7 linked regions of the Homo sapiens genome follow. The protein of the gene in region 5 interacts with the protein of the main gene of each other region in a pairwise test. Each region holds a gene or a part of one and is shown on either strand. Other genes may lie near its edges. The genes, in order: PRDM14, ATXN3, CEP76, RBM10, PATZ1, IQUB and WWOX.

What was found.
Region 1: the proteins of PATZ1 (region 5) and PRDM14 interact in binary tests that used the Homo sapiens proteins (3 or more experiments, as listed by UniProt).
Region 2: the proteins of PATZ1 (region 5) and ATXN3 interact in binary tests that used the Homo sapiens proteins (3 or more experiments, as listed by UniProt).
Region 3: the proteins of PATZ1 (region 5) and CEP76 interact in binary tests that used the Homo sapiens proteins (3 or more experiments, as listed by UniProt).
Region 4: the proteins of PATZ1 (region 5) and RBM10 interact in binary tests that used the Homo sapiens proteins (3 or more experiments, as listed by UniProt).
Region 6: the proteins of PATZ1 (region 5) and IQUB interact in binary tests that used the Homo sapiens proteins (3 or more experiments, as listed by UniProt).
Region 7: the proteins of PATZ1 (region 5) and WWOX interact in binary tests that used the Homo sapiens proteins (3 or more experiments, as listed by UniProt).

The regions. Positions count from the first base shown.
Region 1 is NC_000008.11:70,054,253-70,057,752, forward strand, and holds part of PRDM14 (PR domain zinc finger protein 14), read right to left. Parts: intron 1,150-3,500; coding exon 1,048-1,149; intron 1-1,047. UniProt on the Homo sapiens protein: Transcription factor that has both positive and negative roles on transcription. Required for the maintenance of embryonic stem cell identity and the reacquisition of pluripotency in somatic cells.
Region 2 is NC_000014.9:92,082,583-92,086,082, forward strand, and holds part of ATXN3 (ataxin-3 reference isoform), read right to left. Parts: intron 922-3,500; exon of another isoform or gene 831-921; intron 677-830; coding exon 544-676; intron 1-543. UniProt on the Homo sapiens protein: Deubiquitinating enzyme involved in protein homeostasis maintenance, transcription, cytoskeleton regulation, myogenesis and degradation of misfolded chaperone substrates.
Region 3 is NC_000018.10:12,685,724-12,689,223, forward strand, and holds part of CEP76 (centrosomal protein of 76 kDa), read right to left. Parts: intron 728-3,500; coding exon 539-727; intron 1-538. UniProt on the Homo sapiens protein: Centrosomal protein involved in regulation of centriole duplication. Required to limit centriole duplication to once per cell cycle by preventing centriole reduplication.
Region 4 is NC_000023.11:47,148,221-47,151,720, reverse strand, and holds part of RBM10 (RNA-binding protein 10), read right to left. Parts: intron 1-3,500. UniProt on the Homo sapiens protein: Binds to ssRNA containing the consensus sequence 5'-AGGUAA-3'. May be involved in post-transcriptional processing, most probably in mRNA splicing. Binds to RNA homopolymers, with a preference for poly(G) and poly(U) and little for poly(A).
Region 5 is NC_000022.11:31,339,847-31,343,346, forward strand, and holds part of PATZ1 (POZ-, AT hook-, and zinc finger-containing protein 1 isoform long C), read right to left. Parts: intron 3,115-3,500; coding exon 3,051-3,114; intron 1,838-3,050; coding exon of another isoform or gene 1,559-1,837; exon of another isoform or gene 833-1,558; intron 1-832. UniProt on the Homo sapiens protein: Transcriptional regulator that plays a role in many biological processes such as embryogenesis, senescence, T-cell development or neurogenesis. Interacts with the TP53 protein to control genes that are important in proliferation and in the DNA-damage response.
Region 6 is NC_000007.14:123,458,096-123,461,595, forward strand, and holds part of IQUB (IQ motif and ubiquitin-like domain-containing protein), read right to left. Parts: coding exon 3,262-3,500; intron 1-3,261. UniProt on the Homo sapiens protein: Adapter protein that anchors the radial spoke 1 (RS1) complex to the A microtubule of outer doublet microtubules in axonemes. The triple radial spokes (RS1, RS2 and RS3) are required to modulate beating of the sperm flagellum.
Region 7 is NC_000016.10:78,109,654-78,113,153, forward strand, and holds part of WWOX (WW domain-containing oxidoreductase), read left to right. Parts: intron 1-124; coding exon 125-182; intron 183-3,500. UniProt on the Homo sapiens protein: Putative oxidoreductase. Acts as a tumor suppressor and plays a role in apoptosis. Required for normal bone development. May function synergistically with p53/TP53 to control genotoxic stress-induced cell death.

The sequences.
Region 1 (3,500 bases), on a different chromosome or scaffold from region 5:
AGCATCCTTCACAGATTAAAGTAGTAATAATAGCAGTTAACATTCCAGTAGTACTTTTATGTTATGCCAGGCACTGTTACAAGAGTTTTATATACTTTACTGATGTTATCCAACAACTTGGTAAAGACTATTCTCCCCAGTTTATCAATGTGGAAACTAACAGGAGTTCATGGACTTGCTCAGGGTGGCACAGCTAGGTAAGCACCAGAGGCAGGATTTGAAACTTGGCCATGTTTGTGTTCTTAAATACTATGAAATAGTGATTTTTTTTTTTTTTTTTTTTTGGAGACGGAGTTTCACTTTGCCACTCAGGCTGGAGTGCAGTGGCACAATCTTGACTCACTGCAACCTCTGCCTCTGGGTTCAAGTGATTCTCCTGCCTCAGCCTCCCAAGTAGCTGGGATTACAGGAACGTGCCACCATGCCCAGCTAATTTTTGTATTTTTAGTAGAGATGGGGTTTCACCATGCTGGCCAGGATGGTCTCGAACTCCCTATCTCCAGGCACCTGCCCACCTCAGCCTCCCAAAGTGCTGGGATTACGGGCTTGAGCCACCACGCCTCCCCACCCCCTCCTTTTTTTTTTGAGACAGTGTCTCACTCTGTCACCCAGGCTGGAGTGTGCAGTGGTGCAATCTTGGCTCACTGCAACCTCCACTTCCTGGACTCAAGCAATTCTCCAGCCTCAGCCTCCCAAGTAGCTGGGACTACAGGCATAAGCCACCGATGCATGGAAAATTTGATTATAGGTGTGAGCCACCACACTCAGCTAGTGCTTTTAAATACTATGTAATAGGTCATCAGGTCCCCATAAATTTGGAATGTATTTTATTACATGTACTCTAAATGCCAGCTTGGCAATAGGAGGTTGGTTATATTTGACCATCTTTAGCAAACTTGAGCATATTTAGGGGTGGAAATGAGGACTGGGCTGATATTTGACTAACATTTACCAAGAACTCATTAAGCCAGGCTTTGTTTCAAGTTCTTATCCATAGACACTCAAGCAGAGCTCAGGACACATCCCTTAGTAAGAGGTTCCATTTACCTTAGTACAATACACACACTGGTATGGTCTGTCTCCAGAGTGGACTCGCATGTGTTTGTTTAGGCTGGAAGATTGAGAGAAACATTTCCCACATGTAGAACACTAAGGTGAAAAAGAAAAATATAGTTGAAATCACACCTTCCTCTAACAAGTCCATTTCAACCTTGCGTTTACCTGGGGTTAGAGAAGAACTCTTTTCCAATTTTTTTCTTTTTTTTTTTTTTGAGACGGGATCTCAATTTGTTACCCAGACTGGACTGCAGTGGCACAATCACGGTTCACTGCAGCCTGGAACTCCCAGGCTCAAGCGATCCTCCCACCTCAGCCTCCTGAGTAACTGGGACTACAGGTGCGTGCCACTAAGCCAGCTAACTTAAAAAATTTTTTTTTGTAGAGATGAGGTCTCACTATGTTGCCCAGCCTTGTCTTGAACTCCAACAGATCCTCCTGCCTTGGCCTCCCAAAGTGCTAGGATTATAGCCTTGAGCCACGGCACCCGACCTGAGAGAACTCTTGCTTCAGATGTGGAATGTGGGAACTGAACAGGTTTGTGGTATATGGCAGAGGCCTGAATTAGTCCTGCTCTCTCAACAGGTAGCTGTGTGACTACAGAACATTGGTTAAATCTGGAATCTTAGTTTCCCGATCTTGCTCATGGGCAAAATACCTGCTCTGCCTTCCTCACAGAGCTATGAGTAAACTACAAGTACTGTGCAATTAACTCAACAATTATCTACGACTTACAGAGTACCTACTGTGTGCTCCACACTGCTAGAAACCAGGAGCTAGAAATCAAGGAGGGGTGACGATGAACATGTAAGCCAACATGGTAATGCACAGTAGCAGATTATCTGAGACGTGTTGAACTTGCATGAAGAGGTTAATATTTTGTTCACACGCTGTGAATAATTAATATTGTTTCTTGACCCTGGCAACTCCTCTCGAAACTGTCTCAGGAATTCTACACCAGGTGAAGTAAACTACCAGAGAGGTGCAAGCACCGAGAGTTTGCCAGGGATAAAGCAGAAGGCCTTTGGTTTTGACATCACTTTTAAGGAAATTACACTAACTAAAGAGAAAAAACAATTTTTCTCTGAGAAAGGTTTCTGTGCTTTCACAACCTCTTTCCAGGCATGCTTATGGGGCAGAGGAGAGAGCAAATCTTTGTATTTGTTTATTTATTTATTTTTATTTATTTTTGAGGCAGAGCCTCGCTCTGTTGCCCAGGCTGGAGTGCAGTAGCATGATCTCGGCCCACCGCAACCTCTGCCTCCTGGGTTTAAGCAATTCTGGTGTCTCAGCCTCCCGAGTGGCTGGGACCACAGGTGCGCACCACATGCCCATCTCTACAAAAAATACAAAAAATTAGCTGAGCATGGTGGCATGCACTTATAGCCTCAGCTCAGCTACTTGGGAGGCTGAGGTTGGGTGATTGTTTGAGCGTAGGAGGTGGAGGTTGCAGTGAGCTGAGATCATGCCATTGTACTCTAGCCTGGGCAACAGAGTGAGACTGTCTCAAAAAAAAAAAAAAAAAAAAAGATTGTTCCTCCACTGTACTGTAAGAGCACCTCGTCTGTTGAAGGGTAAGCCATCATCTCACTATCACCAGCTTCCTCATCAGTCCTGTCATCTACTGACCTCCTGGTTGACAGCCCTCCAGTTTCTTTTCTTTTTTTTTTTTTTTGAGACGGAGTCTCGCTCTGTCACCCAGGCTGGAGTGCGGTGGCGCGATCTCGGCTCACTGCAAGCTCCGCCTCCCAGGTTCACGCCATTCTCCTGCCTCAGCCTCCCGAGTAGGTGGGACTACAGGTGCCCACCACCACGCCTGGCTAATTTTTTGTATTTTTAGTAGAGATGGGGTTTCACCATGTTAGCCACGATGGTCTTGATCTCCTGACCTCGTGATCCACCTGTCTCGGCCTCCCAAAGTACTGGGATTAGGCGTGAGCCACCACTCCCGGCCTCCAATTTCAAAGAGAGCAAGCATTCTATACATCTTCTGTAATTTGGTTTTTGCTTGATAAGACAATATTTTTTTTTTTTTTTTGGGATGGAGTCTCACTCCTGCCACCCAGGCTGCAGTGCAATGACACAGTCTCGGCTCACTGCAACCTCCGCCTCTGGGGTTGAAGCAATTCTCCTGCCTCAACCTCTAGAGTAACTGGGGCTACAGGTGCCTGCCACCACACCCGGCTAATGTTTTTATATTTTTAGTAGAGATGGGGTTTCGCCATGTTGGCCAGGCTGGTCTCGAACTCCTGGCCTCAGGTGATCTGCCCACCTCAGCCTCCCAAGGTGCTGAGATTACAGGCGTGAGCCACTGCGCCTGGCCAGTAAGCCATAATTTATATAATCAATTTTGTGTTGATGAACATGCAGTCTCAAACTTTTCACTATCAGAATACTGGATAGTTTTCACTTTTGCCAGTCTAATAAGCGAGAAATACCTTCAC
Region 2 (3,500 bases), on a different chromosome or scaffold from region 5:
AATAAGCTCTAGTAATATAATGATTGTGTTGCAATTTGAATCCAACTAAGTTTTTTTTTTCCGTTTCTTTTTTTTTTTTTTTTTGAGACAGGGTCTGACTCTCTCGACCAGGCTGGAGTGCGGTAGTGTGATTATGGCTCACTGTAGTCTCTACCTCCCCAGTTTCAGGTGATCCTTCTTCCTCTGCCTCCCAAGTAGCTGGGACTATAGGCATACACCACCACATCTGGCTAATTTTTGTACTATTTGTAGAGATGAGGTTTTGCCATGTTGCCCAGGCTGGTCTCGAACTCCTGGGTTGAAGCAATCAGCCTGCCTCAGCCTCCCGAAGTGCTAGGAATATACCATACCAGCTAACTAAGTTAATATATTTAAGTATTTCAAAGAGTTGATTCAAGTTTAAACTAATAAACTTCACTAAAATATAAGGTCCAAAATAGAGTCGCCAACAACACAAGGACCACATATTCAATCTAAGCATGAAAATTTAATTCTCATAATGAAATACTACCATATATTCCATACTGCAGGCCTCATTTTTACCTTTGCTCTTTTAGTTGTGCTAATTCTTCTCCAATAAGTTTTGGTCGATGCATCTGTTGGACCCTAATCATCTGCAGGAGTTGGTCAGCTTCGCAATCTGGCAGATCACCCTTAACGACAAATATAGAATAACCTAAAAAAAAAAGGCAAAAATCAACCTAACCAGTTAGTAAAGAGATTCAAAATTGATGTAAAACACTAGTAGATAAAAAGGCAGCACAGAACACTGGAAAAAAATACAAGCTGAGGATTCAGAAAGACTTTAGTCCAAATAATGATTCTTATACTTACTAGTAAAGTCGTCTAAGGTAAGTTACTTAAAGTCTCTGAGCCTCACTTTCTCCATTGTAAGACTGGAAGAGCCGTCTCATTGAGTGACTGTGAGAAATAAATATGTCTGTAAAGGGCCCTACTAATATAGTACTTGACTGAGCAGGCTACTCACTTACTGTTGTCAGAGTGGGTAACAGCAACTGATTTAGAATCAGACTGCCTGCATCTGATCCCAGTTCTCCCACTTCCTAGCTGCATTTGTCTTGGTTTCTACTGTTAAACATATGATACTAGTACCTTCCTGTGATGGTTAATATTATCAACTTGATTGGATTGAAGGCTACAAATTATTGTTTCTGGGTGTGTCTGCGAGGGTGTTGCCAAAGGAGATTAACATTTAAGCCAGTGAACTGGGAGAGGTAGACCCACCCTCAAACTGGGTGGTCACCATCTAATCAGCTGCCAGCTCAGCTAGAATAAAGCAGGCAGAAATAAGAGTGTGGAAGTACTAGACTTGCTGAGCCTTCATCTTTCTCCCATGCTGGATGCTTCCTGCCCTCAAACATCAGACTCCAAGTTCTTCATCTTTTGGACTCTTGAACTTACACCAGTGGTTTGCCAGGGGCTCTCAGGCCTTTTGCCACAGACTGAAGGCTGCACTGTCAGCTTCCCTACTTTTGAGGTTTTGGGACTTGGACTGGCTTCCTGGTTCCTCAGCCTGCAGAGAGCCTATTGTGGGACTTCACCTTGTGATCATACGAGTCGATACTCCTTAATACATTACCCTTCATATATACATCTACCTTATTAGTTCTGTCCCTCTAGAGAACCCTAATACACTTACTCACAGGGCTGCTGTGAGGACACAGATAATGTGTGCAATAACTAGTAACATGGCTAAAACTAATCATCTGCGGAAAGAGCTACCCCCACCCTGACCCACACATGTACACCCCTTGTAACTAAAAATAGGGGCTGGGAAGCCAAATACCTAAAAGCTATTTAAGGTGTCAAACGTGTGGTTTGCATCCCAAAAGAATTACATTAGTCTAGTGTGACTGTGTCTAAATATGATTCCAGAAATCCAGGGTTTCCCCAAGCTAGATGCTACACACAAAAACCAAGGATGGGCTATACCTAAAACAATCTAACTGATTTAAGTTTCTCTATCATTAATTTTTTTTTTTTTTTAATTTGAGATGGAGTCTCACTCTGTCACCCAGGCTGGAGTGCAGTGGTGCAATATTAGCTCACTGCAACCTCTGCCTCCCAGGAGGTTCAAGCGATTCTCCTGCCTCAGCCTCCTGAGTAGCTGGGATTACAGGCACCCACCACCACACCCAGTTAATGTTTGTATTTTTAGGAGAGGCAGGGTTTCACCATGTTGGCTGGGCTGGTCTCGAACTCCTGACCTCAGGTGATCTGCCCACCTCGGCCTCCCAAAGTGCTGGGATTACAGGTGTGAGCCACCGCGCCTAGCACATTTTTCTTAAACTTTGGTGTTTGTTATTGGATATCCTTTGTTGGATTAACACATAATGGGACAAAGATTATAAGAACTATTAATGGAAAACCTCAAAATAGTATGTTGAACATTTTTTATGAGGACAACTGTATTCAGAGTTTAGACGGTTTAATGTGTTTTCTGCCAGTAAAATTGTTTCTGTATTGTATAATAAATATGCCAGCTCACCATGGTATTCTATGAAGAGTGTCTGAAGAATGGATACTCTGCCCTGTTCAGGGGCCATGGTAAAGATCTTGGGTTTTATTCAAGACTTCACATATTTTTTTTTTTTAATTTTTTTTTGAGAGTCTCGTTCTGTCACCCAGGCTGGAGTGCAGTGGTATGATCTTGGCTCGCTGTAACCTCTGCCTCCCGGGTTCAAGTGATTCTCCTATCTCAGCCTCCCGAGTAGCTGGGACTACAGGTGCACAACACCACACCCAGTTAATTTTTGTATTTTTTGGTAGAGACAGGGTTTCACCATGTTGGCCAGGCTGGTCTCATCAACTCCTGACCTCAAGTGATCTGCCCCCTCATCCTCCCAAAGTGCTGGGATTGCAGGCATGAGCCACCAAGCCCGGCCTAAGACTTCAGATTTTATTCTAAGTGTGCTGGGAAGCCACTGAAGGACAAAGAGTGAGGGTGGGACATAACAGGCCTTACACTGGTTAAGAAGCACTCTGGGCTGCTCTGTCGGTATAATATATAGGAACCAGAGTACAAGAGTCACCCTTATGGAAATGGAAAACCTGATGGATAGCATGGATAGAGAGAAAAAAATAAGTCTTTCATAGACATGTTCAGTTTGAAACACTTTTTGGATTTCCAAGTGGAGATGCCAAAGCTAGGAGTTAGTCAAAGCTAGGTGTTCAGGGTAGATGTCAAGACTAAAGATAAAAGTTTGGTAATTATTGACACATAGATCTTATTTACAGATGATATTTAAGATCCATGAAAGGAATCTGAAAAGTGCAGGCAGCAAGTTAGGAAAACCACAGCATGGTGGGCTGAAGGCCAAAGGTAGACAGGGTTTCTAAGAAGGGATATCATCAGGAACCAAGGTTTTAAATATAAAAGAAAAAAGATACAAGTATCTAAAATCAAAGAATTAAAAACCCTATATTCCTAAATGTGAATTCACAATAACTACATAACAAACCCAGCAGCAATAAGCATG
Region 3 (3,500 bases), on a different chromosome or scaffold from region 5:
AGGGTCCAAGTGATTCTCCTGCCTCAGCCTCCTGAGTAGCTGGGATTACAGGCACACGACACCATGCCCAGATAATTTTTTGTATTTTAGTAGAGATAGGGTTTCACCATGTTGCCCAGACTGGTCTTGAACTCCTGACCTCAGGTGATCCACCTGCCTCAGCCTCCCAAAATGCTGGGATACAGGCATGAGCCACTGCGGCCAGCCAAAATGGTATAGTATTTTATATATAACCTAAGCACATCCTCCTATATACTTTAAATCACCTCTAAATTGTTTAAAAATCTCAATACAATGTAAATGCTACATAAACGTTGTTACACACCATTTTTTAATTTGTACTATTTTTTATTATTGTAATTTTTTACTTTTGTAAGTATTTTTGATCTGCAGTTGGTTGAATCTACAGATACAGAACCTGTGGGTACAGAGGGTTGACTATATGTGCATTTTTCTAAGGCATTCTTTTACAAATGGATTACAAATTCAGAGTAACTATGATATACTGCTACTTAATTCTATTATGTGTGTATAATACCTTGTTTCTACAGAGAAAGGCCAGCAGAGTGCACCACTGCTCCTGTTTACCTCCTCCTCCAATAACAGGGGCTCGTTCATAACCAAGGACATTAACAAATCTTGCTGCTTGCCTTGGAGTATCAAGAAGCCGTCCAGCTCGAAGTGGTTTAACATAGGAACAGACTGGTCTATTTATCCCATTTTCATCCTAGGGAAAAGGGGAAAAACATCTGTAATGACATATTAATCATCCCCAATTATGTTTTTTTCAAATACATTAATGTAGGATAAAATAATTCAGCATACCATTGATCGAGTGCTTACCTTGTATCCAGTATTTGGCTGCAAAGTGCTGTGTATATAATTTCCCTTAATCCTCATCTCCGTTATTTTCATTTTATAGATGAAAACTGAGGAGCTACAGCTATTATGCAACAGAGCCAGGTTCAAGCTCTGAGCTGTTTTACTCCAAAGGCTGTGGCAATAAGAACTCCTCTGAGAAATGTGTGGGTAGGTATGTAGGGGAGGGAGAGGTGCTCTAAGCTGAAGTATTTTTTCACATTACCATATAGAATTTAACAACATATAGCCAGACAGAACAAATAACTCTTCTGATTGGCTGATATAACAGAAATGATTGTAGCTTGATTCTAGTTTGTTTCCATTAGGGCCTCAAATTTAGAGATCCACAGGAAACAATAATTTGTTAACCAAGTCAATTGAAAGCAAAATTTCAAAAAACACTCTAGAAAAAGTTTTACATCCTAAATACAGGATATCTCCTGGTGTTGGTGCTGAATAACTTGTATGCATATATAGGTCTCTGATGACTGTCTACCACTGTGATTTTACAGTGAGTATTACCAAAGTCCACAATCTCTTTACCTTCATGGTTACTGATACGGCACTGTGAAAGGGCCACTTACTATTCAAGATTTGGAGATGACCTACCCTCCCTGATAGGGTTCCTCAGGACATGAGATCTAACCCAGCCAAAAGAAACACCATCTGTTTGAATTATCAGAACCACTGATGTCTTTCTCCACAACCAGAACATCTTTTTCCAATATAGTCCCATACTTTAGCAAGGAAAAAAAAACTCACTTATTTACATTTGATTATAATGAGAAAGATCATTAATTTTTATGTTGCAGAGCAACTTGGCTATAGATTCCACTCATACCTATAGTTCTCAACTATAGAAGGCATCAATTTTTTTTTTTTTTTTTTTGAGACAGAGTCTCGCTGTTGTCCAGGCTGGAGTGCAGTAGTGTGATTTCGGCTCGCTGCAACCTCCGCCCATGGGTTCAAGCGATTCTTGTGCCTCGGCCTCCTGAGTAGCTGGGATTACAGGTATGTGCCACCACACCTGGCTAATTTTTGTATTTTTGTAGAGATGGGGTTTCACGATGTTGACCAGGCTTGGTCTCAAACTCCTGACCTCAAGTGATCCGCCCACCTCGACCTCCCAAAGTGCTGGTATTACAGGTGTGAGCCACTGTGCCTGGCCTAGAGGGCACCGATTTTTAAAACAGAGGATTATTATTCTAATTTTGGGGGGATGTAGAGAACTATGGTTTTCTTTTACATGAACTTAGCATTACTAATAATCTAGTGTGGTATAAGAATACTAAGTCCTGAAATCACAAACTAAATATTAAAAGAATATCCTCAATCCTCAAGTGATTTACAACATTTTCTTAAAACCTAATGGCCTTAGGCTGGGCACGGTGGCTCACGCCTGTAATCCCAGCACTTTGGGAGGCCAAGGTGGGTGGATCACGAGGTCAGGAGATCAATTCCATCCTGGCTAACATGGTGAAACCCCATCTCCACTAAAAATACAAAAAAAATTAGCCAGGCATGTGGTCCCAGCAACTTAGGAGGCTGAGGCAGGAGAATGGCATGAATCTGGGAGGCGGAGCTTGCAGTGAGCCGAGATCGTGCCACTGCACTCCAGCCTGGGCGAGAGCGAGACTCCATCTCAAAAAAAAAAAAAAAAAAACAAAACCTAGTGGCCTTAAAGTTCAATTTCTGTAACTTATTTTAAAGTTTCTTGCACTAAAAAGTTCAAAAAGCATCATTCAATGAATTACTACTATACTATAGCAAAACCAGCTAACAAAGGGTAAAAAGAATAATGAATTTTTAAGTATAATGGCCACGGCAAATCTACAGATCTTTGGTTAGTATTGAGGTGCAGGACTGTTACTCCTATTCTTACAAATCCACTAACAGGCAAGAAAAGATGAGCACATAAGAAGTGGAAGCATTTGCCTAAGTCAATCATCAATAGTAGCATCTTAGAATGTAAGATATATCATTTTATTACAGCAATATTCTAATATTATCTAAATATATCCCCACAAGCTACTTAACTGTTTTGAAAAGTTAATATTTCAACCTCTGAATGGGCACTGTCCAGTGAGAAAATCACTAACCATTATGAGCTATTTAAATTTTAATTAAAATTTAAAATTCAATTATTTTTAGTCATAATAGCCACATTTTGAATGCTCAGTACATGGCTGGTGGCTACCATACTGGTTAGCACAGATACAGAACATTTCCATCATTGCAAAAAGTTCTTGGCCAGGTGTGGTGGCTCACGCCTATGATCCCAGCACTTTGGGAGGCCGAGGCGGGCGGGTCATGAGGTCAGGAGATCGAGACCATCCTGGCTAACACAGTGAAACCCCATCTCTACTAAAAACACAAAAAATTAGCCAGGCATGGTGGCACGTGCCTGTAGTCCCAGCTACTTGGGAGGCTGAGGCAGGAGAATCACTTGAATCTGGGAGGTGGAGGTTGCAGTGAGCCAAGATCGCACCACTGCACTCAACCCTGGGTGACTGAGACTCTGTCTCACAACAACAACAAAAAAAAGTTCTTTACTTTACTTTCAGTGCTGGATACATTAGAAATTTTTTTGGCCTGGATATGTATATTAACGTTTTGATTTATAACTATTGTTTTTATAA
Region 4 (3,500 bases), on a different chromosome or scaffold from region 5:
TGCTGAGGATGGCTACACAGAAGGGGCTGCCTGTCAGCCCTAGATTAATTGCTCTTCTGCAGACTGCCTTTATGGGAAAGAAAAGTAAACTATCTTGTCTAAGCCATTATCCTTTGGACTTTCTGCCACAACCAGCCAAAGTAAATCTTAATTTGTGTACCCAGTATCACTTATACTATTTAATATGGTACTAAAAGTCCTGGACAATACTATAAATGAAGAAAAATAAATAAGTGACAGGATAGATTTGCATACAATATGACCAACTACTTAGAAAGAACATCAGAATCAACAATGAAGTATTAGAAATAATAAGGGCATACAGCAGGGGTAACTTACAGAAATCAACAGCTTTCCTCTACCCCAGCAAATACCAGCATGAAAAATATTTTTTAAAAAATAAGATAATGGCCTGTAATCCCAGAACTTTGGGAGGCCAAGGTGGGTGGATTGCTGGAGCTCAGGAGTTCAAGATCAGCCTGGACAACATGGTGAAACTCCGTCTCTACAAAAAATTAGCTGGGCGTGGTGGTGCGTGCCTGTAGTCCTAGCTACTTGGAAGGCTGAGGTAGGAAGATCACTTGAGCCTGTGGAGGTCGCCACTGCACTCCAGCCTGGGTGACAGAGCAAGACCAAGTCTCGAGAAAAAAAAAAAAAGATAATGAAAGTGACTGAAGTACCTAGGGATTACTTTAACAAAGAATACATAAGACCTGTATTTCCATTTATGAAAATGAAAGCTTTTTATGCTCTTTACATAAATTTCAAAATATTCTCTACAAAGGTCTTAGATGAAATGACTACTTACAAAGATAATTTTCCCCAAATTAATAGAGAAGTTCAGTGTAACATCGATCAAAATTCTTGTTGTTTTTGAGGGACTTTGATAACTTTTGATATATAATAAAGCCCCATAAATGATTAAACCAGCTTTGAAAAATAAGTGCAAAGGAGCTACTAAGACATTCTATAAAGCCATAATAATAAAAACAGTAAGGTGCTGGCACAAGAATGTGCAAATAGACCAATGGAACAAATCACATCACTCAAGACGGATCCATGTACATGAGGGAACCTGAAATCAGATGAGGTACCACAGATCAATAAAGAAAGAATGGACTATTTAGGAGGTGGTACTGGAAAAACTGCCTACTATATGGAAGAAAATAAAACCGGAGCCTACCGTATGCCATATTCAAGAGTGGAATCTAGATGGATTAAAGATCTGAATGCAAAAGGTAAAAACTACATTAGGCTGGGCGCAGTGGCTCACACCTGTAATCCTAGCATTTTGGGAGGCCAAGGCGGGTGGATCACCAGGTCAGGAGATCGAGACCATCCTGGCTAACACAGTGAAACCCCATCTCTACTAAAAATACAAAAAATTAGCCAGGTGTGGTGGCGGGCGCCTGTAGCACCAGCTACTCGGGAGGCTGAGGCAGGAGAATGGTGTGAACCCGGGAGGCGAAGTTTGCAGTGAGCCGAGATCGTGCCACTGCACTCCAGCATGGGTGACAGAGCGAGACTCATCTCAAAACAAACAAACAAACAAACAAAAAACACTATACATTAACAGATAAAGCAAAAAAGGTGACGTTGGGCTGGGCACGGTGGCTCACGCCTGTAATCCCAACACTTTGGGAGGCCGAGGCAGGCGGATCACCTGAGGTCAGGAGTTCGAGACCAGCCTGACCAACATGGAGAAACCCCATCTCTACTAAAAATACAAAAAATTAGCTGGGCGTGGTGGCGCATGCCTGTAATCCCAGCTACTTGGGAGGCTGAGGCAGGAGAATTGCTTGAACCTGGGAGGTGGAGGTTGTGGTGAGCCGAGATCGCGCCATTGTACTCCAGCCTGGGCAACAAGAGCGAAACTCCGTCTCAAAAAAAAAAAAAAAAAAAATGATGCTAGCACATCAAAATTAACAACAGGCATCTACTCTTGGGGGAAGTATTAAGTAAAACTCAGTAGACATGCCCCATGATGCCCTTGCCAGCAATTAGAAACAAAGTAGTAACATATACATGGCAATACAGACAGATGTTAAAAATACAGCACTGTGCCGGGTGTGGTGGCTCATGCCCATAATCCCAGCACTTTGGGAGGCCAAGATGGGAGGATCACCTGAAGTCGAGAGTTCGAGACCAGCCTGACCAGCATGGAGAAACCCCATCTCTACTAAAAATACAAAATTAGCCAGGCGTGGTGGCACATGCCTGAAATCCCAGCTATGTGGGAGGCTAAGGCAGGAGAATCGCTTGAAACCGGGAGGCAGAGGTTGTGGTCAGCCAAGACTGCGCCATTGCACTCCAGCCTGGGCAACAAGAGTGAAACTCTTTCTCAAAACAAAGAAACAAAACAAAACAAAACAAACAAACAAAAAAAAACAGCACTGTTGGCCAGTTACAGCGGCTCATGCCTTTAATCCCAGCACTTTGGGAGGCCAAGGGAGGAGAATTGCCTGAGCCCAGGAGTTTGAGACCAGCCTGGGCAACATAGAGACACCCTGTCTCAAAACAAAAAACAAAAAACAAAAAAAACCTCCCACTCTGAGTAATACAAAGTTCAGGAAACAAAACGAAGACTGTGGCACCATGCCATGTGTGTCAACTGAAAACACAGTCACTCAAAACAACACTTCATATTTTCATTTTCTATGAAAATGTATCTATATGATACATTTATGTATGTATTTATATGATACATGTATCTATATGATACATTTATATGAAAATGATCTATATGATAAATCTATGATACATTTTCTATGATATGTATCATAGAAGGATACATTTTCTATGATATGTATCATAGAAGGATACATTTTCTATGATATGTATCATAGAAGGATACATTTTCTATGATATGTATCATAGAAGGATACATTTTCTATGATATGTATCATAGAAGGATACATTTTCTATGATATGTATCATAGAAGGATACATTTTCTATGATATGTATCATAGAAGGATACATTTTCTATGATATGTATCATAGAAGGATACATTTTCTATGATATGTATCATAGAAGGATACATTTTCTATGATATGTATCATAGAAGGATACATTTTCTATGATATGTATCATAGAAGGATACATTTTCTATGATATGTATCATAGAAGGATACATATCAAACACGACAGAGCAGCTGCCCACAGAGGTGGGAATTGGGAATAAAAATGAAAAAATAAACATGACAAGAGGAAGCCTTTTGCTGACCTATGACAGAAACCTACCTTGAACTGGAAAGTATGATGAACTCAAACCTCTGCACTTGAGGGCTTTTAAAAGTCAATGGTTTTACTTGGTAATAAAGTTTGAACAAAGTATGTATGTCAGCTACTCAAATTCAGAAATGGCCACAGAGCACTTCTAGTGAATACCGTCCAAAATCAAATGTCTTTCAAAAAACATTTCTAATGAAAGCCAAGACTGAATAACACTAGGTGATGACCTTATCTCAAATTTGGGCTCACTTTTCAGAAAACAAAATA
Region 5 (3,500 bases):
ACCAAGGGCACTAGTGCACACCCCCACCCTTAGTAGCCCTTGAACTCAGGCAGCCTCAGGGGTAGTCTCAAGCAGCTTTCTCCCACAGCCCTGGAAAACTCTAAGGGCAATGCATGAAGGTTCAGCTCCCTGGGCTCTTTGGCCCCCTTCTTCTCGAGCATATGCCCATCTCAACGCATTCCTTCTCTAACCAGCCCCCAAGAAGTGGAGCCCGTGGAAGCTAGGGAGGTCTGAGCTGCTCCAGCCTCTCAGCTTCAGGTTGAACTCCATGTGGGGGAAATGTCCCAGCCCACTAAGCTCATAAATCCAGCAGTACCTGGGGCATCTGGGCCAGTTAAGGACACTCAGGCCAAGTCCCAAAGAGACATGCCACTGTCAAGCCTGAGGCTTCCTGCCCCTACATTCAGATGGCCTTTCTACTTAAGCTATGGCACTAGTCTCTGTAACTGGCCTCTTTCATTCTCTCTGGCATCAGGAGGGGATGAGCGATACGGACTGTGCCTAGCCAGTGGGGAACTCAAGGAATGAACTCCCAGAGAGCCGTCTCTTCACCTCTTATGTTTTCAGCATCCCCACACTATGCCAACAGGTGCCCCTGCTGTTTAACCAAGTCCAGGCACACCTGGCTGGCCAGCCCAGAGCAAGAGAGCCAGCATGTCTTCACCTGCTGGGTCCGTTAGGGGAGTTGTGGCTGTAGGGCTGGAGGAGGGGCCAGCAGGTCTGTGAGAGTGTATGTTGGGAGGGGCAGGGCAGGAGCGCATTTGTACACCAAGGGACAGTGATGTCAGTGTTATGACACAGACCAAGGACAAAACACACAAAGCCTCAAATGTTAGAATGAAAAATTTTATCATCACTCCTGTTCACCCCGCAGAGTCTGCGGAGTGCTAAAGGGCACACCAATAAGGATCCGAGGGAGGGGGTCTACATCTGCTTTTTCAGCCCCCAAAGCCATATATTGGGGTGGCCCAATATAAAGCTACTCATTAGTTTGGTTCCTGAGCAGACCTGCTAATAAACCTCAAAAACACAAAAGTCTACTTCACTAGCCAGAAATGAAAGCAGGATCTAGATCTGAGTGGGAAGGGCAGAGGGCAGCATGGGTTGACTCTAGTTGGAATTGTGCCAGTCTTCTCTGGAGGCCGACTCACTCGTGGAGTGGGGAAAGGGGTGGCCAGGCCCCAGTCTAGAAACCCCAGGCCTATGGGAAGTGATGCCAGGGGAAGGGAAGCAGATAAGCTGGTGGCTAGTTCCCAGGAAGGCACCAACCTCCAAAATCACCTAGGCAAGGACAGATGCCCAGGGGTGCCATCTGTGAAAGGGGGGAAAAGGCAAGAGAGCCCAGAAAGAAACTTGGATGCTATAGGGGGTTCCAGAAAGGTGCTCCTTGCTACCCCCATTTGGGGGCTCTGACATGGGAAAGACTCCGAGTCACCCAGGGAGGAGCTGGGCATGCTGGGCAGGAACCACCCTGCTAGCCTCTCCCAAAAGCAGGGGTCTCAGGCCAAATGCCCCTCCTGTTCCCTTCCACTGTCAACCCTCTCCAGGGAGGCCCAGGCTAGCCAACAGGCCACTGGGTAAAGGCCCTGCTGCCCTCTGGGGTGGTCCAGCCCTGCCTCAGATATCCCGGCGGGGCTGGGCAGAAGAGAGTGTTGCTGGAGTGTGCTGGGCCCAGGTTTTCAAGGGCTGGGAATGATTTTTTTAGAGAAAGGGAAAAGGCGGTGTCAGGAACCGAATGGGACGACCTCCACAAAGCAGGCTGGGCAAAGTCCCATGATGGCAGGTCGCTAGGAAGAGGTTCCAGGGGCGGCAGGCCGCTGCTGCTCCCAACCCACACCTGGAAAAAGGGCAGAGAGTGCAGGTTACCCCCCCAGGCCACCGGGCTTGCCCCCACTGCCCTCTGGGCTCCTCCTACTCTGCCCGGGCTAATCAGCACACTACCTGAGTCAGAATGTGCTCTGTGATGAGAGAATCAGAGACAGAGAGAGAGAAGGCAGCAAGGCAAAGACAGATCCCAGCAGGCCCACCCTGGGTCATCCTCCAGGGAGACTGCCTAGCCCAGCACCTGTGAACACCGTCCACGCCTGACCCCCAGGGGCTCTGCCCTACTTACGGCACATTCATCCCTCCCTGCTGGTCTCCCTGAACCCTCTCCCCTTGCCACCAACAGGATAAGGAGAAGCAGGTTATCCTATCAGAGACTGCAGTGCACACCCCACAATCATGGCTCGCCCTCACTTGATGGGAACTTGGCATGGGAGAGGGGAGATAACCAAGGAGAAGACAGAGGTGTGTTCGCTATCCACACAGGAAGGCTCAGTGGCCAGGAGAGGAAACTCAATCTTTTGGGTACCAGCAGGGCCCCCAGATATTGTTCAAGCAGGTAAACCAAGGGTGAGAATCTATCTGGTCCAGCGTTTCCTACCTGCTACTTTGCAAAGAGCTAAAAGAAGAAGAGCCCACTTTGCTCTCCAGTCCTCCAGAAACCCTGGCTTAGGATGGGTTAAACAGATGCCAGTGTGGGAGAGGGGACCACCCACTCCCTACCTCCTACCTCCCCCACTGCCTTGTGCCCTAAGCTGAGGGGACCCAGGAGGAGCTCTAACTGAGGTCAGAAAAGGGGAAGAGTGGTTGGCTGGACCACCAGGAGCCCTTTTAAAAAAACCTGCAGTCCCTACAAACTGCTGGAAACCAACAGTCAGGCCCAGCGCAGTGCCGGGTCTCCCAACACAACATCTGTGTGATACGGCCCACCATCCAAGGAGCCGGCAAACACCAGGAGAGGAAAGCCAAGCAACAGAGTGAAGGCAAAGACAGGGTGGGAACCAGGACCAAGCAACCAGGAAGGAGGAACGTCAGCTGTGGGGGAAGGGGGCCTGGGGGAAGAACAAAGGAGGAGAGCAGAGGGAGGGTGGAGGAACAGAGGGGAGGTGTGCAAAGCGGTGGGCGGTCAGCCGGGCCCCCGGCACACGCAGCGGCTGGCTCAAGGCTGCGACCGTGAGAACAGCATCATCTCCTTCAGCCCATCTCTGCCCTGACCCAGCCCCTACCTGACACTTGTGAGGCCGCTCAGAAGTGTGCACCTGCTTGATATGTCCGTTCAAGTGATCAGGCCTGGAAAAGAGAGAACCAAGAGGGACTTTAGAAACTTGGCCAGACCCCACCACACAGGCACATATGCATACGTGTGTACACACACACACACACTCACTGCTGGAAAGGACTCCCTCTCCCCAACCCCAGCATGACAAAGACAAAGTCACCACCCAGTTCTGGCTCCACAGGCCCAGGCCTCTCTGCCCTGGTTTTCTCTGGAGGGGGGAAGAGAAATGGGCATTTGTCTCTGATTTTGCCTCCCCACTCCCTCAATTCTCCCCACCAGAAACTCAGTGTTTTCTAGGACCAGAGGCGGTGGCAGTAGAATGAAACAGAGCTGCCTCACTGCAGCCTTTCCAGGAGGGGATATGTGATTCATTGTCCAGACTAAAGCCCCTTAGAAA
Region 6 (3,500 bases), on a different chromosome or scaffold from region 5:
GGAAGTTGAGATTTAATAAAGATAAGTAATTCACTTAGTGTTAATTAAAAGACTTGGTTGTTTTAATCAAAAAGAGGGGTAATGAAATAGCTGTTTAAAACTTTTTAAAAAACGTAAATCTTATCAGCTAAAACTCTTGGAATGACTTTTTATCATGGGGTCTGCATTATAAATTTAGAATTGCCAGAGACGGACAAACTCAACAAAGTATAAGCATGTAAAAAGAATATTTTTTAAAAAAGCTTCTGTGAAAAAGTGTGAGAGCAGAAATATTTTCTGTAAAATGAGTACACAAAACCTAAACAATCTGCCAAAGTAAAAAACAAAAAGAACCTGTCATCATCAGCTACAACAGTATTTCATAAATTGGTAATTCAATATATTAAGCTCAACTAATGCATTCTAGCTTTTACTTAATGCTAAAAAAGACAATACTCTGTACACAGCTGCTATGAAAAATAAATTTATAGACCTTTAAAATTCAATGTTTTATATATTTTACTTACATTCAAAATGCATCTTGTTTACATTTTTGTTTTTAATTTAGTTGCTCAACTGTACTAATAATTTTGAAATTGTATCATACAGAATAACGTGTTTATTTGCATGTAAATGTCAAATGTGCACATAAGTGTGGTTGACAGTCTCTAAGAGCTTTCTACCTTTCAAGTAGTCATTGTACTTGAAATTTTTGCAGTAACAGAGCAATACTATTGCCTATTATATTAGGCAGTATTTGTATGCATTACAGATAAACGAGGTGACTAGTACAACACTCAAATCTCTTGTCTAAGCAGAATGTTTACTTTTTATATATATTAACTTTCACCTTTTCATTTTACATGGCATCATGTTCACATTTAACATATGCTAATCTTTGCTGTTGTCCACAAGATTTACTATTTATGAGAATGTTCAAACATTCAAATTATGCCTCAAATACTATTACTGAAATAAATATTAATCAAAACTACACCAATTACAAGGGGGGGGAAGCTACTGGACACTCATATTTGTCTGCTAATCCTAGACATTGGAAAAGTAATAGACCAAAACCCTACATAGATACGGTACTGAAATTAAATCACATCTAATGGAGATTATCCTTATCTGAAAGGTTACAATGCTCCCCTAGAATTTTTTCATTCAATATGTGTAATGGTTGATTTTACATCAACTTGATGATGCCACCGGATACCCAGATATTTGGTCAAACGGTATTCTGGTGTTTATGTGAGGGTAGTTTTGGATGAGATTAACATTTAAGTAAGTCAGTAGACTGAGTAAAGCAGAGTGTCTTCCATAATGTGAGTGGGCTTTATCCAATCAGTTGAAGGCCTGAATAGAACAAAAAGTTCACCCTGTCCCCAAGTAAGGAAGACTGTTTCTGCCTAATGGCCATTGAATTGAGACACTGGCTCCTCCTGGCTCTATAGCAGCCTGCTGGTCATCAGACTTGAACTGGGCCATCAGCTGTTTAGGTTTTAGACTTACCAGCCTCCACAATTATGTGAGCAAATTCCTTGTAACAAATCTCCTTATATGTATATATATATAACATATATGTATAACATTTTCTATTGGTTCTGTTTCTCAGGAGAAATCTGACTAATACAACATGGAATATTGAGCCAGCACTTCTTGGTGACTTACATTAAAGCCCTAGTACATCTAAGATTCTCTACAAGGAAATATACATCTGTCATGTCAATAATTCCTGAATAAAAGTAGCAAATAAGAATTTAAGCTGAAATAAACATCAAATTTATTAACAAAATATTCATTCTATTGGACAAAATATGTAATCATTTTAATTTGTGCTTTTCAAACTGTGGGTTGCTACCTCTTGGGTGATACCAAAGTTTTCCAAATGGAAATCAGAATAAGTAGACTGAGATTGAATAGAAAATATCAGAGTACATCCATAGGGGTAAAGATAAACACTATTTTGGAAACTTTTATTTCTGAGGCAGAACAGCATGTGTTTACATGTACGGATGCTGGGAATCAGACTGCCTAGTTTTCAATCCTGGTGCTGGTACTTAGTAGCGTAAACTTGGACAAGTTAGTTAACCACTCAGTGCTTCCCTTTCCTCACCTGCAGAATGGAAATAATGCCTATTTTGATAGGATTTTTGTGCTGATTAACTCAATAAAGTGTGTAAAGCCATATAGGTACTGAGTATTGAGAATTATCATGCATGCCTATATCAGGTTGTCATAAAAATACATTTTTACTATAGATTGAGATTTAAAAGTTTGAAAGCTATGGATTTAGAAGAATTTTTTAACAAAGCACATCACATTTGGTATCTTTTTTTTAATCTCTATAAAGTTTTCTATTCATAGTAGTGCCTACTTTCCTATTTGGTATTAAATACAATTTAGTTCATTTTAATTAGTAACTAATTTACAGAAAATTTGCCCTTATTTGACAGTCTGTGAACACAAATATCATTAATGAGGTCAATTGTGCTCTATAATATACTTTTATTAATAAGTGGCTAATGTTGGGTAGCCATATCAACAACAAGTAAGTCCTTCTGTTTTCTCACTTGCTTACCTAAGTCCAAACAGTGTCAGGAATTTGTTTTTATTTTGTAGAGACACAGACTATCCTCTGGCCTAAACCCAATAGAAGACATGGAATAACCAAAGAGACCGAAGTAGTGGTTAAGTTAGGAATTCAGGTCAGAATTCCTGATCTCACAGGCTCCACCCTCTCACAGAGCTAGAAGTTCTTACGAGAAGCAGATTACGTAGGGTCAATGATCCAATGCAATGATTCATCCAAAAGAACTCTGGCCAGAAACTTTCCAGTTGTGTGGTATCATATCAACACTTTACATAGACAAGTATCAAAGCCTTTCCCTAAGGTTTTTTTTTTTTTTTACTTTCTATAAGCCTTAGCTTTCACTTTTGGTGTTATTTACCATTATGGTCACATTTGGTTTACACTAATTATTACTGTTATTCGTAAACACTAGTATGTGTATATGTAACATCAGTTTCTGTAAAAGTCATTCATTCATTCAACAAATATTGAGGGCCTTAAATAAAAACTTGGTACTGTATTAGGTTATAGAGGTATAATGGTGAGCAGGAGGGAAAAAAAGCATACTCCTGCCCTCACAGAGCTTACAGTCTAGTGGAATAGAGAGTCATTAAACAATCACACACACACACACAAACATACATAAGATTGCAAGATAGCCTCCTTGACAAGCTTCAGCTATAATTGGCACCCCTTATTGACCATACCTGCATCAAGAAAGCAATTTTAGAATCATCTTCATAATCAGCTTCTGTATAGTAGAGCTGTTGAAGTAAACATTTGTACTTCAAAAATGATTCTCGTTTTTGAGCCTCATTCTGAAGGTTAATGCAGTTACGACACCGGTATATGCGGCGTGAGGTGGATGATACAGAAAATTCTGTAGAAGGCAAATAAAGCTGGCAACTGTGGCAAAAGTAAATCTTCTTATAAAATTTCAATGGGT
Region 7 (3,500 bases), on a different chromosome or scaffold from region 5:
TGACAACTGCTGGGTGGGAGGGACAGGCTTGGGGGCGGGGCTGGGAGGGCTCCTTCCCTTCCTGACCCAGGGATGGTCTTTACTTCTCCCTGGCACCTGTAGACCTGTCTTTCTTGTGTTTCAGATTTGCCATACGGATGGGAACAAGAAACTGATGAGAACGGACAAGTGTTTTTTGTTGAGTAAGTGTCTGCAAAGAAACCACTCTCAGCTGTTTTGCTTTTTAATAGGAATTTTTAATTATAAAAGTAATACATAGTAACTGTAGAAAAATACAAAGTATAACAGTGTGTATCTGTAATCTTAGCAGAAGTGACTACTTTTAACATCGCTGGAACTTTTAACATCGCTAGATTTATTCTTCTATTTTCCCCGCACACGCATCCTTAAAAAAAAAAAGTAGGGAGGCCAGGCATGGTGGCTCATGCCTGTAATCCCAGCACTTTGGGAGGTCGAAGTGGGTGGATCCTGAGGTCAAGAGATCGAGACCATTCTGGCCAACATGGTGAAACTCCGTCTCTACTAAAAATATAAAAATGAGCTGGGTGTGGTGGCACGTGCCTGTGGTCCCTGCTACTCGGGAGGGTAAGGCGGGAGAATCACTTGAACCCAGGAGGCGGAAGTTGCAGTGAGCTGAGATCGCGCCACTGCACTCCAGCCTGGGTGACAGAATGAGACTCCTTCTCAAAAAAAAAAAAAAAAAAAAAAGAGGGAATGCACTGTGTGGACTGTTTAGTAACCTGCTTTTTCCATGTAATATATTATGAGCATTTTCTTGTATCCATATCTATTTTTCAAAAAGATGCTATTTAGCAGCTCTAGAGTTATTATTTTGTACAGATATACTATAATTTATCAAATTGCCTATTGGACATTAATGCTAAATTCCTGTTATAGAGAACCTATAATTATAAATAATGTATTGAGCATCCTTATCTGTAAGACTTTTTCACCTCTCTGATTCTGTCTTTAGGATAAATTCCGGTATCACGCAGCAATAGTAACCACCTGTCCAACATATAGCATGAGCCAGGCCTGATTCTAATCATCTTGTATCTGTAGCATTAGGTCATTGGATCCCCACAGTGCCCTGAGAGGTAGTATTGTTATTATCCCTAGCTTACTGCCAGTGACACAGACTTGAGGGGGTAAGTGACTTGTTAAGGATCCCACAGCAAAGAAGTAGCACAGCCAGGCTTTGAGCCCAGCACCTGCTCCAGGGACTGTACTCTTGACCACCGTAGTTAAGAGGAGAATTAATGTTTCACAACTGTCAACATTTAAATTAGAAGCTTGAATAGTCTTTGACAGGATTAGGATTGGTTGGTTAATAGAAGTTGATTTGAGCAGGAATTTTTTTTTTTTTTAAAGTTATGAATGTAACATAAACGTTTCAGTATTTGATTCAAGTACACCAACATTTAGGGGTCGGGCCAGCCCTCCTCTGAGTGTGAGTCCACTTGCATGGATCCAGTGTGGTCTTCCTTCCCCTAAGCATGCCTGTAACATAACATCTACAATTTCTACTTTCATTTTATGTGGGCGAAAGAGTACCTAGGTGCCGAGGCAAGAGACTGAAGGCACAAACTGTTTCAGTATAATAAAGAAAGTAGTTAGAATAAGAATAGTCATAATACAGGTTAGATATGGAGATGATCATGGACAATTATCAATCATTACTATAAACACTATTAATCATTAGCTTTTAATATTACTCTTTGTGGCATTACTAACATAACCTAGGAATAACTGGCATGTATAGGCTCAGGTGCTAAAGGGACATTGTGAGAAGTGACCTAGAAGGCAAGAGGTGAGCCTTCTGTCACACCCGCATAAGGGCTGCTTGAGGGCTCCTTGGTCAAGCGGTAACGCCAGTGTCTGGGAAGACACCCGTTACTTAGCAGACCGCGAAAGGGAGTCTCCTTTCCTTGGAGGAGTCAGGGAACACTCTGCTCCACCAGCTTCTTGTGGAAGGCTGGGTATTATCCAGGCCTGCCCACAGTCATCCGGAGGCCTAAACCCCTCCCTGTGGTGCTGTGTTTCAATGGTCACGTACGTTGTCCGCTTTCATGCTCCTCCCGTACTCCTGGTTCCTCTTTGAAGTACGTAGTAGATAGTGGTAGAAGAAATGGTGAAAGTTTTAAAGTCTTTGATCTTTCTTTTAAGGGCAGAAAAGAAAATGCTGACGTATGCTGCCTTCTCTCTCTGCTTCGGCTACCTAAAAGGGAAGGGCCCTCTATCCTGTAATCACGTGACTTGCTTCACCTTGTCAATCACTTAGAAGATTCACCCTCCTTACCCTGCCCCCTTGTCTTGTATGCGATAAATATCAGCGTGCCCAGCCGTTCGGGGCCACTACCGGTCTCCACATCTTGGTGGTAGTGGCCCCCACCCTGGGCCCAGCTGTTTTCTCCTTATCTCTTTGTCTTGTGTCTTTATTTATTACAATCCCTCGTCTCTGCACACGGGGAGAACACCCGCTAAGCCCAGTAGGGCTGGACCCTACAACTTTAAGGTTGAGCAAACACAGTATTTTCAAAGAATCTGATTGCTACATCATTTGGGAGTTTTATGGTATTTTTCTAGCATTTTCACTGTAGTTGATTGAACCAAAACTTTTTTTTTAGCTGCTTGTCTTTGAGGCTCTCCAAAGCATTCGACCACATTTTCATAGATACCACTGACACTATTTTTCACCTCCCATGTTATCAGTTTGTGTAATAGTAGCTTGCTGGTAATGTAGTTACAGTAACAAGTTCAAATGACATGTGTGTTTTTTGAGCAAACCTGGTGAACTTTTGGTGCAAAACTGATATTGAGAGCAAATAGGCCAAAGCTTGCTTGAGAGAAGTCTCCCAGGCCACCATAGGCAGCCCCAGGAAGACGGGGCTGTCTAGCAGTTGGATAGGTGGGAGTGCCTATTATTTGTTAAAAGGCTTTTTGCCTAACTTGTGAAAGTTTTTTTTCCTCAACTAATTAAGGGTATCAACGCATTGGTTGTATGTTGAAAATGTTGAAAATGTTTTTTTTTTTTTTCCAAGTTTTCTTTCTTTTTTTTTTTTTATACTGGGTCTTGCTCTTCTTATCCAGGGCTGAGGTGCAGTGACACAGTCACAGCTCGCTGCAGCCTCAACCTCCTGGACTCAAGTGATCCTCCTGCCTCAGCCTTCTGAGGAGCTGGGACTACAGGCTCATGCTGCCATGCCCAGCTAATTTTTAAAGACTTTTTTTTTGTAGAGACTGAGGCTCAGTATGTTGCCCAGGCTGGTCTTGAACTTCTGGCCTTCAGCGATCCTCCTGCCTTGACTTCCCAAAGCATTCATATTACAGGCATGAGCGACCACACCTGACTGAATTTCTTAAATTTTTTATGTAGTCAAATCAATTTTCTCCTGTGCAGTCTTTGCCTTTGCATTCACGCTTGGAAAGTTACTCCCTGAAATGGGTATTAATCAACCAAGAGCAGCAGTTCTCAGGCATGGTTCCTGGACCAGCAGCAT